4 linked regions of the Homo sapiens genome follow. The protein of the gene in region 2 purifies or fractionates together with the protein of the main gene of each other region. This does not show direct contact. Each region holds a gene or a part of one and is shown on either strand. Other genes may lie near its edges. The genes, in order: PTTG1IP, EPHX1, RIOK2 and CDK11B.

Region 1 (4,711 bases), on a different chromosome or scaffold from region 2:
ATGTGTGCACTTCATGAGAAGCTACATGCCATTAAAAACACCTCCAGAACAGGTGTTCCAAAGGGCAAGGCTCCCCAGGTCCAGGAGCTGTGTCTTCAGAGTGGTCATTAAGAGAAGTTCCATGGAAGGGATGAGTTCACAAACACACATGCATCACACACAGTACACACATCACACATGAAGGTGCACACACACCACCACCACCCCCTGCCAGACATCCCACACTACAACCACCACCACCACACAAACTTTTGAATTCTCTAGGGCCTCAACACCAGCAACAAGTTGTTTCAGATGGAGGCTGATAGATTTTGAAATGGAAATCAATTAGAAGAGTGGTAAGTAAGACGTAAGTTGCAGAGGGATCCAAGATGCAAATAAACAAAAAGAATCATCAAAACACCTTAAGAAAATATTGCTTCTTTACAAAGTTTAGGAACCCTATGTATTACCCCAAAACCTGAAGCCTAAAAGATTAATAAATTCAACTACATAATAATGAGTTCTAGGTTACAAAACACACCACAAACTGATTTAAAAGGCAAACTACGGGGCTGGGCGCAGTGGCTCACGCCTGTAATCCCAGCACTTTGGGAGGCTGAGGTGGGCAGATCATGAGGTCAGGAGATCGAGACCATCCTGGCTAACACAGTGAAACCCCGTCTCTACTAAAAAATACAAGAAATTAGCCGGACGTGGTGGCGGGCACCTGTAGTCCCAGCTACTCAGGAGGCTGAGGCAGGAGAATGGCGTGAACCTGGGAGGCGGAGCTTGCAGTGAGCCAAGATAGTGCCATTGCACTCCAGCCCGTCTCAAAAATAAATAAATAAATAAATAAAGGCAAACTAGAAAACAACTTGAATCTCACAAGAGCTGATTTCCTTAATTTAAAAACGCCTCCAAAATCAAATATACAAAGATACGCACACAAAAAAAGAGGGCTGTCTACGCAAGCAGGGATTCTTAAGCTGGGAAAACTGGAGATTCTAGGGGAATTCACAGGTGAGTTTCAGGGGTGACACATGAACAAAACATACTGAGCAGAGAAGTCAAACACGTTGCCTTCAAACTCACCCTTTTCCCCACACCTTCTGTAACGTGGTGAGATAGAGCTCAGTGCTGGGGCTGACCACCTTGAAGGAGGTCCTCCAGGTTCCCCAGGGCTGCTTTCCCGGTCAGCAGATCACCCCTGGCTTCCCAACCTCTCCCTGGGAGTCACAGAGCTACTGGCAGCACATTTTCTAGCAACTTCTGCTAACTGAGCACATAATACTATTTTCTTTTTTTTTTGAGACAGTCTCGCTCTGTCGCCAGGCTGGAGTGCAGTGGCACGATCTCGGCTCACTGCAAACTCCGCCTCCCGGGTTCAAGCAATTCTCCTGTCTCAGCCTCCCAAGTAGCTGGGATTACAAGTGCATGCCACCACGCCCACCTAATTTTTGTATTTTTAATAGAGACGGGGCTTCACCATGTTAGCCAGGATGGTCTCAATCTCCTGACCTCTTGATCCACCCGCCTCCGCCTCCCAAAGTGCTGGGATTACAGACGTGAGCCACCGCGCCCGGCCCATACTACTATTTTCAAAGAAGCATCGATTTTGCAAGCAGCAAATGAAAACAATGACTTACCCCAACAAACTCCCCAGCGTGCAGAGCTCAATTTACAAAGGGAAGCCGGTGGCAAGACGCTTGTAACTGGGTAGTCCAGACAAGCCTTGTTAGTGTTGCACCAAAGACACTGAAAGAGACCAACATTAAGCAAGCATTAGAAACAACAGAAAAACCAAAGAACTGTCCAGGCTCTGCCCACAGCCCGCCAGTGCTGCCATCGCTCTGTGGATGGCTGTAAAGGCTCAACCTCCCCCTCAACGCCTCATCTCTGCCTTCACCCTCAGCGCCCTTCGGTCCACACCCAGCACAGCGGCCAGCAGCCCTGTCAGCTCTCCACGGACTCATCCAAGGCCCGCGTCACTCAGGCCTCTTCCACAACTCACCCTGCTGAGGCCACGGGGCCTCTGTGTTGGCAGCCTCCTGAGTGCTGCCAACCCCACCTCATGCTCTCAGCCTCAGCTCAGCCTGCCGGTTCTGCCTGGAGCACTCTCCCCACATCTGTGTGGCTCCCCACTGACTGGATGGGCCCTGCCTCGATCAACAGACTGGACACAACCAGCCGCCTCCACCCCCTCCTCCTCACCTCCTGTGAGGTTTGCTTCCGTAGACCTCTCCTCCCCACACGCCGGGCACCTGTGCACTTCACTGGCTGAAGTCTCCCAAGAACACAGGACACAGCCTGGCCCATCACAGGCACTCACTGAGTTTGTGTTGAATGGACTTGGGTGAGCATGGTCACCATCTGTAGCAAGGACCATGCTTCCTACCTCTGACCTTCACAACTGCACTAAGTCGCACAGCTTGAAAGATGATGCAACTACGGCTCAGCCCGCCCTAAACTGACAGCTGGAGAGAACCTCATAGACGCTCTTGTCTGAGCCCCTTGAACGTCAGGTGTGAGGCCGCAGTGGTGTGGAGACAACACCATCACACCCGTGTGTGTGTGTGTAAGAGCCCAGAGCTGGGCCCAGCCCATGCCACAGCAGTACACAACGAGGCCCGAAAGCGGTCTGTGAGCCAGGCACTGAGCGTGACAGGGGACAGCCTAGCACGCAGGCAGATGGCACAGGAAGGGGTGAAAGAACTGCTGTTCGGGTCAGGCACGGTGGCTCACGCCTGTAATCCCAGCACTTTGGGAGGCCAGGAGGGCGGATCACCTGAGGTCAGAAGTTCGGGATCAGCCTGACCAACATGGAGAAACCCCATCTTTGTTAAAAATACAAAATAAGCCGGGCGTGGTGGCACATGCCTGTAATCCCAGCTACTCCAGAGGCTGAGGCAGGAGAATCGCTTGAGCCCAGGAGGCGCAGGTTGCGGTGAGCCGAGATCGCACCATTGCACTCCAGCCTGGGCAACAAGAGTGAAACTCCGTCTCAAAAGGAAAAAAAAAAGAACTGCCGTTCGGCAGCACCTCATGCGCCAGCCCAAGTCCAGACCCAAGTCCAGACTGCCTGTTACTCCCAATCTCCACATTAACAGTGTTACTGACTTTTTAATAGGATAGAAAGTCATGGCGTTTTTGGCCCAGGTTAGGGCAAAAGTCTATTACAAAAAAATATTAATTACAATGTCCCCTGGGCCTTCTTTCCCAGGGCTACTTATACAGTGACCACCTTAGTGTCGTGTTTAAGTGGTTTCCAGCATAATGTAACAATTAACAGTTAAACCCTGTTTATTCTGGTCATTTGGGAGTATCTTCCATTTCAGGGGTTTTGCTTGCAATTAACGATTTTTGGCTAATCCTCCCTTTTCAAGTGGCTCAAGTTGTAAATGTCTGATTTTCCATTTTTCCATGACAGTGGTACCATGAGCCACAGGACTGCACTGGGAGGATACGGTGTTCTCTGGTGGTTGTGCTGCTTTTCTGATCGATGAAGTAATATGCACATAGCAAGCAGCTCAGGCAGCAGCACAGACACACAGCCCGCCACGGCCTCGGCAACACAGAGACACACAGCCCGCCACGGCCTCAGCAGCACAGAGACACAGCCCACCACGGCCTCAGCAGCAGAGACACAGCCCACCACGGCCTCAGCAGCAGAGACACAGCCCACCACGGCCTCAGCAGCAGAGACACAGCCCACCACGGCCTCAGCAGCAGAGACACAGCCCGCCACGGCCTCGGCAACACAGAGACACACAGCCCGCCACGGCCTCAGGAGCGTGGACACAGCCCACCATAGCCACTGCTCCAACACGCAGGTCCTCTTGAGACCTCCCAGGCACTGACACCTCCTTCCAGAAACCTCCTGTGTGCCCAAGAGCACACCCACACACGCCTGGAGCTACTGTAGGGCAAGCGGCCCTCTTCACCGCCCTGTCTGGGTTCAGAACTGGAGTCAGGCCTTCAGCCCTTCTGGACTGGCCCCATCCACAATGACCTGGGCAAGTCCCTCAGCCGCCTCATCCACGAGATGGCTGTCATCACCACACCCTGCCCAGGGTGGTGAGGGTTACACAGGGTACTATGGCAAAAACGCACTCTAGGCTACAAAGCCACATACAATAGTGAGCTATGTTTAAAGCTGAAATGACTTCCAATAGAAAAATCCAGAGACTAAAAAGAAGCACCATCTAGAAAATGCACCAGGACCAGGCGCATTAGAGCAGGTTCAACATCACCAATGTCAAGATCTGAAACCACAGAAACAGCGTCTTTCAATTTTTAATCAGCAAATGCAAGTATCCACTTAAGTCCCACAAACTGACAGGGTGTGTCTCGAACCTACGCTACGGTCTCGTGGAGGAAGAAGAGTTTTTAAGAACATGGCTCATGCCTTAGAATAGAAATCATCGAATACATCTTTCCCGGCCTCCTCAAACCTACGCTACGGTCTCGTGGAGGAAGAAGAGTTTTTAAGAACATGGCTCATGCCTTAGAATAGAAATCATCGAATACATCTTTCCCGGCCTCCTCATATCATGAAACCTCATTGCCGGGGAAAGGAAGCCTCTGGCCCTGCAGTTCTCAAAACCTGGTAAACTCCTGACTGGAAGGGGCAAGGGGTGGGCGAGATCAGGAATCCTAAGAAAAAGGCCCCACAGGATGCTGTTTTCTGCCTAACCACTTCCCGCTGCCGTGGGCCTTCCCTCAGGTTTCC
Region 2 (4,711 bases):
TATATGCACACAGATGGAAGAGAAGTGTGCACAAGCAGAAGTGGTTAGGTTTTGCCACAAAGTTTTCACAGAGAAGGGGTCATTGAGCAGGGTTTTTAAGTATGAATAGGAGTTTACCAGGAGAAAAATAATGGTGGAATGGGAATAATCCAGGCAGAAAGAAGAGCATGTGGAATGGAATGGGATGGAAGTGAGGAAGCGCATGGCATGAATGAAAAAACACAAGAGTCTCATAGGCTATTTTCGCATAAGAGTTGATGATTCCACATTTCCGAGTGTAGTTGTCTCATTTATTACTATACTATCTCTTTTATAAATTGCTACTTCATCACGAGCTGACCCAGGAGTTTTAACTTAGAAATCGTGTTTACAATTCAGATTACCCTTCTGTAAATTACATGCTGAAAAGAGTGAGCTAAGAAAATATACTTGGGGACAGGCGTGGTGGCTCATGCTTGTAATCCCAGCACTTTGGAGGCCAAGGTGGGCAGATCACCTGAGGTCAGGAGTTCAAGACCAGCCTGGCCAACATGGTGAAACTCCGTCTCTACTAAAAATACAAAAATTAGCCGGGCATGCCTGTAATCCCAGCTACTCAGGAGGCTGAGGCAGGGAGAATTGCTTGAACCCAGGAGGCGGAGGTTGCAGTGAGCCAAGATCACACCACTGCACTCCAGCCTGGGGAACACAGCAAGACTCTGTCTCAAAAAAACAAAAAAAAGAAAGAAAGAAAATATACTTGGGAATGTGAGGATTTTGTGGTTGAGTGAAGAAAGGTGGCCCAGACAGGAGATTACTCAGAACTCAAAGGTTCACCGCAGCTGTCCTTGATGAGCTGGTGGCTGCGGCAAATACGCCATCAGATTGGGATGTTGAGGCAGACTGCTAGCAATGTTCTCTCCTTCTTCCTTAGCAAAGGATTTTTAATTTTAGTTGGAGAAGACCAGCCAAACACTTGACATTTCTTGGCCCCCTGGCAGCTAAGTATGACAGAGTGATTAAGTGCGGACAAAGAGTTATAAATGTATTAGAGCAGAGCCACCTGGGGCCCAGACAGTACCTTGTGTCAAAATTTTCTCCAGTGCATCTGAAATCGCACTGTGATCCTGTCCCCCTAAACTTTGTCTTCTCTTGGTGTTCCCTCCCTCAGTAACTGACATTACCCGCCCTGCTACTGCCAAGCCAAAAACCCAGGCAACGTCCTTGAAACCCCTCTCCTTCACTCCGCCACAGATATCAGTAAGTTCTGGCAGCTGAACTTCCAAAGTACATCTCAAATCCATCTCCAACCCAGCCCAGGTTCCTGTGGCTCTCCCCTGGACTACTACCCTGCCCGGTCCACTCACATCTGCTCTACCCCTTCCAACACAATGGCCACTCTGAAGCCACAGCAATCTTTTTAAAACATTTTTTTTTTTTTTAGATGGAGTCTCTCTCTGTCCCCAGGCTGGAGTGCAGTGGCACGATCTCGGCTCACTGCAACCTCCGCCCTGGTTCAAGCAAGTCTCCTGCCTCAGTCTCCTGAGTAGCGGGGACTACAGGCGCATGCCACCATGCCCAGATAATTTTTGTATTTTTTTTTTTTTTTTTTTTTGAGACGGAGTCTCGCTCTGTCGCCCAGGCTGGAGTGCAGTGGCGCAATCTCGGCTCACTGCAAGCTCCGCCTCCCGGGTTCACGCCATTCTCCTGCCTCAGCCTCCCAAGTAGCTGGGACTACAGGCGCCCGCCACTACGCCCGGCTAATTTTTTGTATTTTTAGCAGAGATGGGGTTTCACCATATTGGCCAGGATGGTCTCAATCTCCTGACCTCGTGATCCGCCCGCCTCCGCCTCCCAAAGTGCTGGGATTACAGGCGTGAGCCACCATACAAACCTTTTTTTTTTTTTTTTTTTTAATGGAGACAGGTTCTCACTATATTGCCCAGGCTGGTCTCAAACTCCTGGGCTCAAGTGATCCTCCTGCTTTAGCCTCCCAAATAGCTGGATTACAGGCATGAGCCAGGCCAGAGTGATCTTTTGGAAATGCAAATCTGATCATGTATATCCCATCCCCTGCGAAACCCTTAAAGAGCTTCCCATTGTCCTTGGGTTAGTGTGGCCTTCAAGGCCTGTGTGATCTCACCACTCCCCTAGCCCCTCAGAGTGCTACTGGTATCAATATTATGGAGAAACAGTTTACTTGAAAGCTAAGTGAGAGTTTTAGGGCTGGGATCTCACGCTGCCCCCCGATCTTTCAGTTTTGTGCTCACCATGCTGTCTTACTGTGGGGCTTTATGAAGGCGAATCCCTCTGTCGAAAAGCTATTCCCTCCCCTTCCCACCTCCCTAACTTCTATCCACCTTTCAGATTTCAGACTGACTGTCCCTCCTCTGGGTAGCCTCTCCTGACCTATCCCAGCAAGGCAGATCTCTCAGTCCTAGCCTTCGTCGAGCTCACATTTGTCAGGGTGATTATGTGACTGACAGCTGGACGGAAGCTCCTGTAGGCCACTGACCATGTCTGCTTTGGCTCCCATCTGGACTCTCAGTGCCTGGCATTCTAGTAGAAGCTTAATTATTTGTTGAATGAATGAATGAATTTAAAAATTCTTTGAATGAGAGCATAGAAAATTAATCAGAACTTTTGAACAAGAAGAGCTGAATTCCCCTTGAGGAATAATAAATATAACCTACTTAGCCTAGTTGGTAGAGACAGACCATAAGATGCAGGAAGAGGGCTGAGTAGGTGGCATGAGGCACTATAACGCCCCCTGACCCCAAAGAAGACTGGAGAACCAGTATCCTAGGCGCACTACAAATATCAGGGTTTTGGGTCTAAAAAGATGGGGTCAGACTCAGATCCGGCCACACAAAGTAAAGGGCAGGTCTACCGCCTGCCCAAAGACTCCCCTCCCCCAACCCAAGCAAGCAGTCAGAACCTCACCACAAGAAAGTGCTCCTAAAATCGCAGTAAAGTGCTAGCCGGCCATGACTCAGCACTTGCCATGTGCCCGGCCTTGGCTAAGTGCATTGCAGGGCAGAATGCCCAAGTATTTTTCCAGAACAAAGGCCATGAGGTGGACCCAGCCCTGCGACAGTTGGGCAGGCCTGGCTCTGACTGTGTTTCTCTAATAGTGACTGAGACTCACAGCAGCGTGAAAAGCCAGTGCTTCTCCTGGGGGAAGTCTGCCACTTTGGGGAGGAAAGTGTGGGGGCAGAGAGGGTAAGGGAAAAACTATGGCATGACCTGCCCCTCAGATGCCAGGCCAGAGAGGTAGGTGGGCTTGGAGGGTCTGCTGCTTCTGCAGGCCTGGTCCCAAGCCTGCCCCCATACTGCCCTCCCCAGCACCCCAGCCTCATCACTCCTCCCTGGGGAAGGCGAAGGGAACATCCAGTGGAAAGGGAAAAACGGATGGCTTCCCTCCCATTCCTGGCCTGCCTGCCAAGCGGACGCAGGATGGGAGCCTGGGAGCGTTCCTGCTGTGAACTCCCTGTCAGCAGCTACCCAAGCCTTGGGGCTCCCAGGGGCTTCCCAAAAGCCATCCTGAAGCTCCCAGCCCCACTCCCTTGGCTGGCCCAAGAGTGACGGAGGCAAACCCTGGGGGGAACTCCCAGCTTCTCCCTCAGCCATTGTCCCTGAACCCCAGGGACCCCTGGAGACTCAGGATGGAAGAGGCCGGATGCAGGCAAGCTGGGATTGTGCACCAGGCCAATGGCCGTGTTTATCTCTGTGCAAGCGCCGGAGCCAAGCCCTGGGAAAACAGCTTAGAGCCAGAAACCAAGGGAAAGGAAAAATGCAGTTTACAAGCAGGAAAAAAAAAGCTGGGGGAGAGTAAAAGAGCAGTAAAAAGTGTCAGGAGACAGCCTTCTTGGGGGCAGGAGTGCTGTTCTGGGGCATATCGCCCTCTGTGTGGGAGGGAATTCCCTCCACCTCCATGCTATCTACATGTCTGGAGAGATAGAAAGAAAACAATTTGGGATTGGCACTGGGATGCCAATGTGGTTGAGGGAGCCCCGAGCCAGCCCGCGGGCAGTTAGGCCCTCACTGCCTGCTTTGCTGCCTGGCCCTGCTGCCTGCCAGCCATGTAGCCTCAGGTCAGTGACTCCACTTCTCCAGGCCTCCGTGGCCCCATCTGCTGTGGAGGGTCTGGAGAGGGGAAGGGGAAGGCCACGCGGGTGGGCTGGCCAAATCCTGTGCACCTTCGGAGAGGGGACGGCTACTTCCACACTCTTTAAAGGCCACACAAACTTTAAGTTACAGAACTCAAGAAGACCGAGAGATGCCCCACATGCTGCAGGGCTCATGAGCTCTTGGCCTGGAGTTTCATTTGAGGTCCCATTCCATCTCACATTCTGCCAATTAAAATTAGAGCTGTTGAGTTGCTTCCATTGGTTCTAAATTACCAGAGAAAAAACTCAAGCAGAACCCAGTTCACCACCTATAAAGAAAAAGCATTGCCCTCTATGCAATTTCAGTCCTTGACATTCTCTTTTTTTAATCTTTTAAAATTAAAAAAAGTTAGAATAACTTGTTTTTTCTTTTAATTTTAAAGACAGAGCCTTGCTTTATTGCCCAGGCTGGAGTGCAATGGTGCAATCTCAGCTCACTGCAGCCTCGACCTCCCAGATTCAAGCAATTCTCATGCCTCAGCCTCCTGAGTAGCTGGGATTACAGGCACCTGCCACCACCATGCCCGGCTGATTTTTGTATTTTTAGTAGGAAAGGGGTTTCG
Region 3 (4,151 bases), on a different chromosome or scaffold from region 2:
TTCTGTCGATTGCTTTTTAACTTTAGTCTTGAGACTGATACTTTGTTAGATTCTAGTAAAAGAATGTTTTTTTCAAATGATGTGACAAAATTGTATTCTGCCACCTTGATGTATAAAATGAAAGCCAAATAATTTTTTGTTGTTAAAAACTCAAAATAGCTTCCTTTTCAATTGACCTGATTCTAGGCAGCCTATTGACTAAATTTCAAGTAATTCTGCCTTAAAATACAAACTGATGGCTGGGCACAGTGGCTCGCTCATGCCTGTAATCTCAGCACTTCTGGGAGGCCAAGGCAGGCAAATCACCTGAGGTCAGGAGTTTGAGACCAGCCAGGCCAACATGGCAAAACCCTGTCTCTACTAAAAATATAAAAATTAACCGGGCATGGTGGCCTGTGCTTGTAATCCCAGCTACTTGGGAGACTGAGGCAGGAGAATCACTTGAACCTGGGAGGCAGAGGTTGCAGTAAGCCAAAGATCGTACCACTGCACTCCAGCCTGGGTGACGAGCAAAAAACTCCGTCTCAAAAATATATATATATATACAAACTGATGATTTTAAAATTATTGCAGGTCTCTGGATACATTGATCAGGTTTTAGATGGATGAGTTATTCCTCATATATTTTCCTAATTACACATCTGATGTGTGTTTGAGTTATGTAAAGGCATGTAAATATTAAAACATGCAATAAATGTACTTTCTATATGAAACATCTGCAGTGAATTTTCTCTAGTACCTTGAGCCTTCTATCCTTTGTTCATGTGTAGTTAAAATTATCTAATGATATTATGTTTTCTTTTAATAATTTTTTTTTGTAAATATTAATCAGGCTCAGCTTAGATTAGGAAAAGTTCTAAAACTTAATTTTTGGATTTGGGATTGCTTATTCAGAATCAAATTGTAGTTAAATGAAATATTGGTTTTATTTATTTCAAAATAGTAATATGACAATTAAAATTAGTTCAGCAATACATTTATTAAACATTTTTCAGTACATGTTTGGGCTTATATCTTAAGCCTACCTTTATCTTTAAAGTTTTATTCCTGAAGCAAAACATGAGAATTTTGTTCCTTTTTCATATAGCTGTGTATCTGTGTCACAGGGCTACTGCCATTTAAATAATAAACTTGGAAAATTAAATCAGAAGCTTAAAAGGAAAAGAGGGGTGACAGAGGCTCAGGATTTTGAGTAAGTGATTGTATTAGACTGGATTCTTCAAAGAAACAGAATAAATAGGAGATTTATTTTAAGGAATTAGCCCATGGGGTTATGGAGGCTGAGAAGTCCCAGGATCTGTAGTCAACAAGCTAGAGACCAAGGAGAGCCCATGGTACAGTTCCAGTCCAAATCCAAAGAGCTAAGAACCAGAAGAGACAATAGCATAAGTTCCAGTCCACATCCAAAGAAAGGAGAGGACCCATGTCCCAGTTCAAAGACAGTTCTCTCTTACTTTGCCTTTTTGTTCTCATCAGGCCTTCAATGGATTGGATGAGGTCCACCCACACTGGGGAGGGCAATCTGCTATACTCAGTTTATTGATTCAGAAACGCCCTCAAAGACACACCCAAGTTAATGTTTAACCAAATATATGGCACCCTGAGGCCCAGTCAAGTTAACATATAAAATTAACCATCACAGTGATAGAAGAAAATCTATATAGGATTAAATGGTCTTTTAAACTCAGAATGGGAACAATAATTTTGTTCCCACTCTGGATACATGCTGGGCAAAACTTCCATTCAAAGTAAAAGCAGAACAGCAGATGTTGCTGAAAAATATTAACTGTTAGGAGTTAATATCGTCCGAGTTTTTATACATTGCATATATTGAAACTTTGAGCCATGTGAAAAACATTAGTCTCTAGGTTGCAGATTTTCCTACCCTAGTGGAGCTGACTATAATGAGTACTGTCTGTTTCCATTATATCTTCTGTTTGTGAAGGTGGAAAGAGTCTCAAAAATTTAGATAGGGAGAGACAGATTTATATAGTTCAGTGAAAGAAGAGGAGAGGATTATTAGAAAAGGGAAGATGAATTGTGGGGAGGTGATAAATTTCAATGGCTTAAGCATTCTACTGTTTTTAAATTTTGATAGTGACTAACAAAATGCTGGAAAATGAAAATTGTTAATGTATAGAACTTAACAGTAGGTAGTTTTATCTTCACAGAAATTTTAAAATATAATGATCTTTCTGAAGTATTTTATGTCTTCAGTTTTGCTGCATGCAAAAAATAATATAAATTAATCAAATGGGATTCATTACATTATACAAATTAACTAGATAAATTGTGGGTTTTTTAATTTTAGAGATGAAGAAAATGTGGGAGCTATGAATCAGTATAGAACAAGAACTCTGAGTATCACTTCTTCAGGCAGTGCTGTAAGCTGTTCAACAATTCCTCCAGTAAGTAGTCATTCAACATGTACTGAATGTTTATTACATCACTACTGTGATCTGATTGCCTTGTCTCATTAAACAATAATGTATGCCTTTCAGGTACAGACTTCTGTTGATTGCTTTTTGACTTGTCTTGAAACCAGTACTTTCTTTGATTTTAATAAATGAATGTTGCTCAAAGGATGTGGTAGAGTTGTGTCCTGCCACCATTATGTGTAAAATGAAGGCCAAATGACTTTTTGTTGGTAAAACTCAAAACACCTTCTTTTTCAATTGTCCTGATTTTAGGCAGCCTGTTGACTAAATTTCAAGTAATTTTTTCTTAGAATACAAACTGATGAGTTTCAAAAAATTAATGTAGGTCACTTGATAAATTGATCAGGTTTGAGGTGGATGAGTCATTCTTCATATGAGCTGAAGATTAATGAGCTTGGTCACTGTGAGGATTATAAGGTGTGTAAGCCTCAGACACTTGGACGTACATGTTAATGGTATAAAATTTTGTTGTTGTTGTTTGTTTTTGTTTTTGTTTTTTTTTTGAGATGGAGTTTTGCTCTTGTCATCCAGGCCGGAGGTCATCCAGGCTAGAGTGCAGTGGCATGATCTCAGCCCACTGCAACCTCCGCCTCCTGGGTTCAAGCAATTCTCCTGCCTCAGCTTCCCGAGTAGCTTGGATTACAGGCGCCTACCACCATGGCTGGCTAATTTTTGTATTTTTAGTAGAGACAAGGTTTCACCATGTTGGCCAGGCTGGTCTCGAACTCCTGACCTCAGGTGATCCACCCACCTCAGCCTCCCAAAGTGCTGGGATTTCAGGCGTGAGCCACTGCGCCCAGCCATTTGTACTTGGATATAAGTACAAATTTGGCCGGGCATAGTGGCTCAGACCTGTGATCCCAGCACTTTGGGGGCCAAGGTGGAAGGATCGCTTGAGCCCAAGAGTTTCAGGCCAGCCTGGGCAACATAGCAAGACCCCTGTCTACAAAAAATTTAAAAGTTAGCCAGGTGTAGTGGTATACACCTGTATTCCCAGCTACTCAGGAGACTGAGGCAGAAAGATCACTCAAGCCCAGGAGGTTGCAGCCACCGTGAACTGTGTTCCTGCCACTGCACTCCAACCTGGGCAACACAGCAAGACCCTGTCTCAAAAAAAAAAAGAAGACCCTTGTTCCTGGCTTTGCAGAGTTTTGCAGCTATCTTCTTTTTTAGGAGAAAAGTTGAATGATACAAGGTTATATACAGTTATTAAATAACAGACTGTAGTGCTTCAGAGAAAGAAAAGGTCATTGTGAACTGAGTATTTCACATTTCTTATTCATCTTGTAAGTCATGTGACTTGCACAGTGTATCTTAACTGATAAGTAACTTGAATTTATGATCAAAAGACATATGAAGACTTTTCCATGGGTGATTGCTACCATCAGGTCAATTCTACAGCTGAAACTGTGAAGGCATTCTTGGATATATTCAGCAATACTGAATGCTTTCAAAAATAATTTTCTATACAAAATCTACTCTAAAAGCCTACTTTTAACCTAAAAAGCAGAGGAACAAGCAGTTTCATCTTGTTTTTTCCATCAGTTTTCATGATGGACACTAGGTGGCACTATGGTAATTTTTTAAAAATTCTGCCTATACACTATATTTTTTGCTATATAATCTGTATTTCTGTTTGGAATTTAATTTCTCCTATATAACAGTTTCTATATAGTACTGTCAGTGTTTGGAATCTTAAAATTCATGGTGTCA
Region 4 (4,711 bases), about 220 Mb from region 2:
ATTCATTGTTGGCGAAACCTGCCTTAAAGGAAATACTAAAGGAAGACCTTCAAGTTGAATAGAAATGACACCAGACGGTAACTTGAATCCTCAGGAAGGAAGGACAGGCACTGCAGATAGCAAGTGTAGGTTGACGTCAATATCCTGTAACTATCTCTCCTCACATCTTAGGTTTTACTGGAACTACGATTGTATAAAATAATTACACTGTTGTCATGGTATGTGGCATAAATGGACTGCACAAAGAAGACAGGGAATAAAGCTGTGTTACAACAGTTTTATATTGTACTGGACTTGAGCTAGTATCATGAGGCATACGGTGATCCCTAGAGCAACCACTAAGAAAGTTGTTTTCTTAGTGTTTTAAAAAGTACAAATAAATTAAAATGGTATGCTAAACATATGTAATTTAAAATCAAAAAGGGAAGAATAAAAAAGACACAACAAAGCAAGGAAAGTAAATCCAACTGTACGTGTAATTATATGACATGTGAAAGGTCTCTGTGCCCCAAACAGACAGGGCAGATTATCAGATAGAAAAACAAGATCTAACTGTATGCTGTCTGCTAGAGAACAGGAAAAGACGCAGCGTACAAACATCAGCTGTCATAGGAGAGCTTGAATGGCTGTACTCATACCAGACAAAACAGATGTTAAGAAATATTAGAAACCAGCCTGGCCAACATGGTGAAACCCTGTCTCTACAAAAATCACCTGGGTGTGGTGGCGCACACCTGTAATCCCAGCTACTCGGGAGGCTCAGGTATGAGAATCACTTGAACTCGTGAGATGGAGGTTGCAGTGAGCCGAGATTGCGCCACTGCACTCCAGCCTGGGTGACAAACCAAGACCCTGTCTCAAAAAAAAGCTAGAAACAAGAAGGAGCAAGGACTTCACAGCCAGAAACAGGCCAATACAGCAGGAAGATACAGCAATGATACGTGTGAATGCATCTAACCACAGAGCCCAAAATCCATGAAGCAAACACCGATCGAATGGAAAGAAATGGATCATTTATTAATTAGAATTGGAAATGGCAGCTGGGCACGGTGGCTCGGGCCTGTAAACCCAGCACTTTGAAAAGCGGAGGCAGGCGGATCACGAGGTCAGGAGATTGAGACCATCCTGGCTAACATGGTGAAACCCTCGTCTCTACTAAAAATACAAAAATTAGCTGGGAGTACAGGGCGCACGCCTGTAATCCCAGCTACTCGGGAGGCTGAGGCAGGAGAATCGCTCGAACCCGGGAGGCGGAGGTTGCAGTGAGCCGAGATCGCGCCACCGCACTCCAGCCTGGGGGACAGATGAAGACTCCGTCTCAAAGAAAATAAAATAAAAAAATGAAAAAAAAACTTCACGGATTGAATTACGTAGAAAGCCAGTTTACAAATGTGGACAAAAACGCGATAAGCAAGCTTCTGTTTAGGGGGAATGATGGCGTGTGCCTCTTCAGGGACCGCTTGGAGCAGTTAGAAAGGAAGCGGGAGCGGGAGCGCAAGATGCGGGAGCAGCAGAAGGAGCAGCGGGAGCAGAAGGAGCGCGAGCGGCGGGCAGAGGAGCGGCGCAAGGAGCGGGAGGCCCGCAGGGAAGGTAGGCGGCGCGGTGGGCAGCTGTGCTCGGCGGGACGCGTGTCTGCTGCCCCCTGGTGCTGGGCACTTGCTGTCACAGGCGGGCGCTTGGTTCCGGTGCTTGCTTTTCGCCCCTGCCTTTTTTTTTTTTTTGGAGGCAGAGTTTTGCTCTTGTCCCCCAGGCTGGAGTGCGGTGGCGCGATCTCGGCTCACTGCACCCTCTGCCTCCCGGGTTCAAGTGATCCTCCTGCCTCAGCCTCCGGAGTAGCAGGGATTACAGGCACCCGCCACCATGTTCAGCTATTTTTTTATATTTTTAGTAGAGACAGGGTTTCACCGTGTTAGCCAGAATAGTCTCTTGATCTCTTGGCCTCGTGATCCACCCACCTCGGCCTCCCAAAGTGCTGCGATTACAGGCGTGAGCCACCGCGGCCGGCCAGTACGAGCTTTTATAGTCACCCACGTCCTCACCTTAATGGAGATCTTTATTTCTTCACCCAGCTTCCGGTTTCTGTCTCGCGTCCTTTCCTTACACCCCACACAACTCCCTGGAGCTTATTCTTCAAGGCAGGTCTAGGTCTAGTAGTAATGAACTCCCTCTGCTTTTGTTTATCTGAGAATATCCTCATTTCTCCCTCATCTTTGAAGGAAAGTTTGCTGGATACGTGGTTCTTGGTTGACAATTTTGTTGTTGTTGTTTTGAGACAGAGTCTTCTTCTGTTGCCCAGGCTGGAGTGCAGTGGAGCGATCATAGCTCACTGCAACCTCGAACTCCTGGGCACAAGTGATCTTCCCACCTCAGCCTCCCGCGTAGCTGGGACCTACAGGCGTAGCGTGTGCCACCACACCTGGCTCATTTTTCAGTAGAAACAAGGTGTCCCTGTATTGCCCAGGCTGGTCTTGAATTCCTGGGCTCAAGGAACCCTCATGCCTAGCTGACAGTTTTTCCTTTTCACTTGGACTATTTCAGCCCATTGTCTTCTGGCCTCCAAAGTTTCTGATGAGAAATCTGATGATCTTATAGAGGATCCCTTGGATGCTTTAATCTGATGACCTGATTGAGGATCCCTTGGATGCTTTGAAGATTCTCTTTGCCTTAGGCTTTCAACTGTTTAATAATGGGTTTTCCTGTGGGCCTCTTGACTTCATTCTACCTGGAGTTCACTGAGCCTCTCTAATGTTTATATTTACGGTTTTCATCCAATGTGGGGGTTTTGAGGAATTCTTCAGATACCCTCTCTGCTCCTCTCCTCCCTCCTGGGCTCCCACAGATCTGTTGGGGTCCCCGAGGCCGCTCAGCACTGCTCCCTTTTCTTCAGTCTCTTCTGCTTTCTTTTCCTCAGACGATGTGATTTTATTGTCTTCAGGCTCACCGATTATTTCTTCTGCCTGCTCACATCTGCCTGTGAGTTTCTGTTGTGAATATTTACTTTTTAGTGTCTATTGTGAGCATGTACTTATTAGCTCTGGAATTTCTCTCTGGTTTCTTGTTGGATCTTCTGTCTCTGTTGATATTTCCGTCGTGTTCACGCGTCATTTTCTTGACTTTCTCCACATCTTCCTTTCGTTCTCTGAGGAACTGAAGGTTAAGACAGTTCCCTAAAGTCTTTGGGACATCTACCGTCAGGTGATTTTCAGGAACCGTGTCTGTTGGCTTCTTTTTTTCCCCTCTGAATGGGACATACTGTCCTATTTCTTTGTTTCTCTTGTGTTTTTCTTAGTCAAAAAAATGGACATTTGATTCTCATGATGTGATTCTTCCTGGTCCCCACTCAAGGGTGTGCACTTGTTGTTTTGGTTGTGCTGGGCTGTGTCTGTGGGGTCGGCCTGTTGTGGAAACTCAGGGTCTTCACGGGTCTTTTCTGAGCCTGAGCCTTTTCCTGGTCACGTGCAGCCACTTTTTAACGTTCCCGTCAATACAGATGTTTTTAATGTTCTTGTCCTGAAGTGTCTGCCTCCTAAAGGGGGAATAGAGAGAAATGAAGGGGGCAACGGGGGACGTGGTGCTCATGCCCTGGAAGTACCTTCAGCTTGGGGGTGGCCGTGGCTGCTGCCTCTTCATGCCTCTGGGGTGGGACACGCAGTCATCACACTGACCTCGGGTGTGTGTGTCCGTCTGCCCACCTGGGTCCGGCGAGCTGCATGCAGGCTGCTGCCTGCCAGCGGGGAGTGAGGTGGGAGCCACTAATGTGCGAAGCGGTGACGTTGATTAATGAATCACAGTTTACTCTCCAAGATTCCCCCTGAAGTTGCAAACCTTCAGTAGACTCCAGAGCACCTCAGTAGTTGCACAGGCCTGATCCTGTGATGCAAGTGTTGTCTCGGTGGGGAGACTGATTCCCAGTGCTTCCTACTCCATCTTTCCAGAATCTTCTCCCGCCCCTTCCTTTTTGACCAGTGAAGATCAGTCTAGAAGGTCCACCTGGGTCCTCGGGCTCACGGCCTCCAGGTTGGAGCTTTTTCTCCCTGGGCTTCCTGGGAGACCTCTGGCCTCTGACCCCGATGCTGTCAGCACCCTGTGCACGCTGTGGGTGTGTCTGCCAGGTGCGGGTGTGGGAGACGAGGCAGCTGTGCCGGGTGGGGCCTTTTGAGGAAGGCAGTGCTGCTAGTGCCATCTCCCTCTCTGCCCTGCGCGCCAGTGTCTGCACATCACCGAACGATGAGAGAGGACTACAGCGACAAAGTGAAAGCCAGCCACTGGAGTCGCAGCCCGCCTCGGCCGCCGCGGGAGCGGTTCGAGTTGGGAGACGGCCGGAAGCCAGGTGAGGCCAGGCCGGCGCCTGCGCAGAAGCCAGCACAGTGTGAGTCTTTTCTGGGGGATGTTTGGCATAAGTGTGTAGGATTCATTTAAAGCCCAGCTAAGTAACCGCTTCAGAAGAAAGTGAGAGATGTGCTGGCTGAAGTCCTCTCGTGTCGTGAGAGGGACCGTGAGTGTCTGTGTGCGGCCAGGACACAGGACGTGTGTTTATCCGCTGGGACATTCGCCACTGGCCCCGTTAGAGAAGTGGCTTCCAGCGTCTCTGGATGAGCTGGTTTCCGACCAAGCAAAGTTAATCGTTACGTGAAAGGCACTAGTTTTGGGGTGGTGGTAGCTTGTTTGTTTAAAAACATTTCCCCAAATTCACCTTTATGGTTTATCTCAT

What was found.
Region 1: the proteins of EPHX1 (region 2) and PTTG1IP fractionate together in Homo sapiens (co-fractionation; one large-scale study listed by BioGRID). This does not show direct contact.
Region 3: the proteins of EPHX1 (region 2) and RIOK2 fractionate together in Homo sapiens (co-fractionation; one large-scale study listed by BioGRID). This does not show direct contact.
Region 4: the proteins of EPHX1 (region 2) and CDK11B fractionate together in Homo sapiens (co-fractionation; one large-scale study listed by BioGRID). This does not show direct contact.

The regions. Positions count from the first base shown.
Region 1 is NC_000021.9:44,859,535-44,864,245, forward strand, and holds part of PTTG1IP (pituitary tumor-transforming gene 1 protein-interacting protein isoform 1 precursor), read right to left. Parts: exon of another isoform or gene 4,434-4,711; intron 4,336-4,433; exon of another isoform or gene 4,259-4,335; intron 1,738-4,258; coding exon 1,629-1,737; intron 1-1,628. UniProt on the Homo sapiens protein: May facilitate PTTG1 nuclear translocation.
Region 2 is NC_000001.11:225,816,110-225,820,820, reverse strand, and holds part of EPHX1 (epoxide hydrolase 1), read right to left. Parts: intron 1-4,711. UniProt on the Homo sapiens protein: Biotransformation enzyme that catalyzes the hydrolysis of arene and aliphatic epoxides to less reactive and more water soluble dihydrodiols by the trans addition of water.
Region 3 is NC_000005.10:97,163,308-97,167,458, reverse strand, and holds part of RIOK2 (serine/threonine-protein kinase RIO2), read left to right. Parts: coding exon of another isoform or gene 1-20; exon of another isoform or gene 21-713; intron 714-2,311; coding exon 2,312-2,408; intron 2,409-4,151. UniProt on the Homo sapiens protein: Serine/threonine-protein kinase involved in the final steps of cytoplasmic maturation of the 40S ribosomal subunit. Involved in export of the 40S pre-ribosome particles (pre-40S) from the nucleus to the cytoplasm.
Region 4 is NC_000001.11:1,642,005-1,646,715, reverse strand, and holds part of CDK11B (cyclin-dependent kinase 11B), read left to right. Parts: intron 1-1,426; coding exon of another isoform or gene 1,427-1,453; coding exon 1,454-1,590; intron 1,591-4,207; coding exon 4,208-4,330; coding exon of another isoform or gene 4,331-4,369; intron 4,370-4,711. UniProt on the Homo sapiens protein: Plays multiple roles in cell cycle progression, cytokinesis and apoptosis. Involved in pre-mRNA splicing in a kinase activity-dependent manner. Isoform 7 may act as a negative regulator of normal cell cycle progression.